Regions from separate parts of the Homo sapiens genome. Here region 1 is linked to region 2. A link means that fine-mapping ties the variant in region 2 to the expression of a gene that starts in the linked region. Tissue or cell type: whole blood. Region 2 holds a variant in brackets; the other region holds the start of a gene. All regions are shown on one strand. Distances are between the middles of the regions.

The links. PIP is the estimated chance that this variant, and not a neighbour inherited with it, causes the effect.
Region 1: it holds the start of CARMIL1, and the variant in region 2 is fine-mapped to the expression of CARMIL1 in whole blood (INTERVAL, PIP above 0.99).

Annotation. Positions count from the first base shown.
Region 1 is chr6:25,278,083-25,280,702 of GRCh38, forward strand. It overlaps CARMIL1 (capping protein regulator and myosin 1 linker 1), which reads left to right and starts at 1,292. Exons shown (of 37, transcript NM_017640.6): 1 at 1,292-1,753. The coding sequence starts at 1,714. RefSeq lists a silencer at 1,020-1,489.
Region 2 is chr6:25,407,067-25,409,566 of GRCh38, forward strand. All of the region lies in intron 2 of CARMIL1 (capping protein regulator and myosin 1 linker 1), which reads left to right. The region is part of intron 1 of LOC124901281 (a long non-coding RNA gene); the gene reads right to left. Among named protein-coding and RNA genes, the nearest start is that of CARMIL1, 130 kb to the left of the region's middle. The variant TAA/T (reference allele first, on the strand shown) is at 1,226.

The DNA.
Region 1 (2,620 bases), 130 kb before region 2:
GGTTTAGAAAAGTGTTTCAGGCAATACATATTGTAGAGGCTTAGGGATCACAGTAATCTGAAAATCCCTGGAAAATATTCACAAAGAAGGTAGACCATTGGGATGGGTTTGAAAACATAGATAAGAATCAGATAACCTTAAGAGGAAGGAGGAAGCAAACAGTGAGTCTGGTTGTAATAGAGAAGGGAGTGGGAGAGGTTAAGGAGGGTGGGAAGGGGCCAGGTTGGCAAATCCTTAGTGGTAAGGCCTGGCTGTGGGGCTGAAGATGATTCTAAGGGGTCCAAGGTCAACAGCAGTGTTTAAAATTAGATTGCCAAGTGCATGGATTCCCTTTCCTTTCCTCCTTTTCTGTCCTTTAAAAGCAGAACCTGATTAGACAGTCTGGGACATTCCCAGCCCTAGGCTAAAAAGCAGCGATTGAGGCACAAAGTATTCTTGGCCCTGAAGTTGAACCTCTGGGGATGGAGCTCAGGGAAGTCATAGGGAGTTTGGGCCCAGGTAGGATCAGACCTATCCGCAGGCTTACATAGGCTCCAGTGATTAAAGCTCAGCTTCCTGAATATGCCCCGAGGATAAAAGAGACTTTTCCGAGTGAAAGGCATTTTCCAAGGCGCTCTCAACGGGAATGTCTGAGATAGCGAACTGCGGCTGCAGAGCACCAGCTGAACGCACACACACAAGTGTCTTCTCACGGTATGATTAGTGTTCACAGGTTTCGTCTAGCTCATCAGAAATGAAGAATAGCGATGATGAAGTGACATGTCACCGGGAGGGTTGAAAAAGAAAAAGTGCGTAAGAGGGTCCCAAAAAGAACCAGCTTCCGTGTAGACGGGTCTGCAGAATCTGCCGTCTCCCGTCTTCTGGGTCCCCTGGCCCGCCCGGAGTGGGGACAAGGAAATGGAAAGCCCGGCTCACCCGGCTCTCCTCCCTCGCAGCCAGCAGATGGCTCCCGGGCTCTCTCGCGAGCCCGCTCGCCCCCTCTCCAGACGCAGGGCTTTTGCGGTTTGGGAGGGAGGCTGCGAGGAGGGGCGCGGTGCCCGCCGCCGCCACCGCAGCACCGCACAGCGTCTCTCCTGGGGGTGCGACCTACGCCGGGGACCCAGCGCTCGGGCACCGGAGGCCGGCCTCGCACCGGTGCGGAGGCCGGCTCTCGCGAGGTGAGGAGGAAACGCAGGAGGAAGAGGAGAAGGAGAAGGAGGAGAAGGAGGAGGGCCGGAGCTGCCCCCGCCCAGCCGGAGCCCGGCAGGAGCGCGAGGAAAACCTACTCCCCCCGCCCCGCGCCGCTCTCCCCGCCCTCTCCCACGCCTTCCGCTTTCACCTAGGGCTGTAGGTGCGGCGCGGAGGCTGGGCGGGAGCTACGCCGGCCCAAGCCCCGCCGGGGACCAGCGAGCCGGGAGGAGGAGCAGGCGCCACAGCCGCCCCGCGCCCCGCGCCCGCTTGTAATCCGGTCCGCTCCTTATTCAGCCGCCGGGAACTGCGAGGAGGCGTCATGTAGCAGCAGCAGCAAATCCGCCTCGCATTTGCAACTCTTTTTTTTTTTTTTGGTGGGGCGGGGGGCGCGCGGCAAAATTCTGTCTCCGCCCCCCCTTTTCTTGCCCACTTCCATTTGCAAGCTGCATCTGCCTCTCTAAAAAAATTGAGGAGTTCGGGGAAGGGCAGGGGGCCATAAATCAGAGTTGGACCTGCAATAACCCCCACACCTACAGGGCAACCATGACCGAGGAGAGCTCTGACGTTCCCAGGGAGTTGATAGGTAAGATTCACGCGGTTGTTGGTTTTCCACCTTCCTCTGCGTACTCCTCACCTCTCTCTCCCTTCCCACCTCTGCTTTCCCGCAGGTCTCGAGAAGTCTTGGCGCCCCTTAGGGCAGAGTGGTGTTGGGCAGGGTCACTGGGGGTGCCGGGAAGTTTGTTCCCATCCGACCGCCTGTAGAGCCAAGTGCAGAGAGGGAAGGCTTCGGGGAGGAATCGGGAGTCCTCGGGAGGTGGGTGGGAGGAGGGTCTCGACTGTGAGCCCTGGGCACCTCCTCTTGCCCGGAAGCGGGGATCCAGGTTGGCGAAAGAAGGGGGCGGGCCATCTTAGACTTGGGAGTTCTGCAAGCGAGGGGAGCCCTTTACAGCTCCCAGCCCACTGCCCCAAACTCGGGAAAGTCCGGGAAAGCCTATTGGAAGGACAGGTGGCGAGCGCACAGTAGGTCGTCTCCGGCACGTGTCAGGCGCTTTCCTGAAAATGCCCCGCGGGAGGTGATCTTCTGACACGCAGACTTGGGGGAGTGGGCGCTAGTCTGGTAAAATGACTGGGCTTGGCAAGGTGTGGCTTGGTGTAGCCAGCTGGGAGCGAAAGGGTTACAGGGCTGACGCAGACTCAGGCCAGGAAATAGAGGGTTAATGATAAAAGCCTTATTTTAATAATGATTAACCTACCGATTCTCCCTATAGGGGATCTCTTAGGGAACCCGTGTGTGTTACGCTGTGCAAGGTGACCCATTGTTTGAGTACCTTGAGGTTTTTTTTTTTTTGGTGGTGGTGGGGGCGGGGCTGGTTAAGTCTTGGGGTTTAACTTAATTATCTGGAGGGTTAAAATGGCAGAGCTGAAATAGGATGGGAGAGTGTTCTGAAAA
Region 2 (2,500 bases):
CGTGAGGTTGGATTTAGCAATCAAGATTGGCACCTCAAGCAGGAGAAATTTAAGTGGAGTTGTGGGGACAGAAGCCAATTTTGAACACTAGATGAGTGAATTGGAGGCAGGAATATGAAGACACTGAGTATGGGTACCTTTTTTGAGAAGTTGGGCTCAAAGGGTAGAGACAGTTAGAGGGGACCTGCAAGAGGTGTGTAGGATCCAGGCATATAGCTCTAGGTCTAAACATCTCTATGTTTGGATATTTAGAGATGGAAGAGAAAGGATATTTAGTTGCTTAAGGTTCCTGCAAAGACAGGTGGGATGTAACCCAGAGCCCACACGAAGGGACGGGCATTTATCTCCAGCACTTCAGAAGGAGAGGAAGAGGAGGGGGTGGGTACAGCTGCAGATGCAGGCAGGTGTGGAGGTTTGGAGTGGAATGGTAAGTGATACCATTCTGATAATTTCTGTTTTCTCTGTGAAGTAGGAGGGAAAGTCATCTTCCCAGATGAAGGGAACGGAATCAGGTTGCTGGGTAAGATCAGTTCTCCAGCTGTGCTTGGCAGCTACCACTGCAAGCATGGAATAGGCGGCTAGGTAAGTTCAGCCAAGATTGAAGTTTTACTCTGTGGGAGTAATAAAAGGACAAGGAACACGAAGGCTAAGGACATTAACACATGGAGGAATGATTTCAGTGGAGGTTCAGTTGGATGAAGATAGGTTAGTGCTGATGGAGAATGACCTGGCAGTGTCAGGGGGCAATAAACAGGGTAGTGGTAGTACCTGAATAAGGGAACTAGCTATGAGTGCTTCTCCAACTGTAATGCTAATGTGAATCACCTGGGGATTTTAGTAAAAACGCAGATTCTGATTCAGCAGGTCTGGGCTGAGGCCTCAGATTCTGCATTTCTAACAAGTTCCTGTCACGCCAGCCTCTCTGGCCCGTGGATCACACTGTGAGGGCCAGGTGTGGTGGTGCATGACTATAATCCAAACACTTTGTGAGGCCCAGGTGGGAGGATCACTTGAGCTGAGGAGTTTGAGACCAGCCTGGGCAACATAGACGTCATCTCTACAAAAAGTTTAAAAATTACCTGGGTGTGGTGGCTTGTGCCTGTAGTAGCTACTTGAAAAGCTGAGGCAGGAGGATCACCTGAGCCTGGGAGGTCAAGGCTGCAGTGAGCCGAGATTGCACCACTGCACTCCAGCCCGGGTGACAGTAAAAGCCTGTCTCTTAAAA[TAA/T]AAAAAAAAAAAAAAAAAAAAGATTTCGGGCAGAGAGTGGGATGCCTGAATTAGAAATCGTTTGACATGGTATAATCTCAAGCAGTAACTAACATGGCCCAGGATATGACAGAGTGAACAAGAAGGCCGAAGAATTCAAAGGCTTCCTGATCATCATATCTTTAGGGATGCAATGATTTACACTGACTATCGCCAACACTTTTCTAAGCACCTTGTGTGTATTACCTTCTTTAATCCTTATGACAACCTCCAGTGAGGTATATATTGTGATCCCATATTTTACAGATGAGGAAAGTAAGGCACACAGAGGTCTTTCTCAAAATCATTCGTGCTTGTAAGTGGTGGGACCAGAATTCAAACTGGGGTGGTACAGTTTCAAAGCCTAGTGCTCTGCATGATTGGATGCTGTATTGTCCCCTGATGAGAGAAGTTGGGGCTGTATAGAAAGTGTGAGGTGGGAGGATCATTTGATCCCAGGAGTTAAGACCGGCCTGGGCAATGTAGTGAGACCCTGTCTCTACATAAAATAGAAAAAAAAAAAAAAAGATTTTGAGCCAGGTATTAGCCTCACCTATGAATGAAGTTCAGCATATCTAGGAGAGTGCTAGGCACAGTACTTGTAGGCTTTTTACATGTTACCCCTTTAATCCCCACAACTGTCCAACAGAGTCTATTTCATACTGATTCTACAGGTAAGAAAAATAAAATTTAGGAGGTTAGGTAGTTGATAAATGGAGGAGTTGGTAATTTGATCTAAATTGGTCTGGATTCAAAGCCCATTCTTCCTTTATATCAAAGTTTATCCCATCACCATATAGAAATGGAAATTCTCTTCTAATTCTTAAATAGGTTATAGTTACCATGGGAGTATTCTCCCCCTTGCTCTGACTCAAGCCACATGCTGAAGATGATGTGTTACGAATAAGGCTGAGACCAGGAGACTGGGCTTCTGGGCTCAGCTCTGTTTCTAACTAGCAAGTTTGCACACTGTCTCTGTAGGTCTCACACCTTTGTCCCTGTGGATCATTTTCAGAGCTATATTCTATAAGTTTGAGGACAATTATTATGGCTCCTTTTATATTAGTATCTACTGTATGCTCAGCACTTGATAGGTTATCTCTAGTACTTAAACTAGGATACAGATTGTCTCCAATTTAGAAGTGAAAAAGCTGAGGCCTGGAGATTTCAAGCAACATGCCTAATACCTCTCAGTCCACAAAATGGCAAAGCTGAGATTTCGCCTGAAGTGTGTCTGACTCTAAAGCTCATGTTC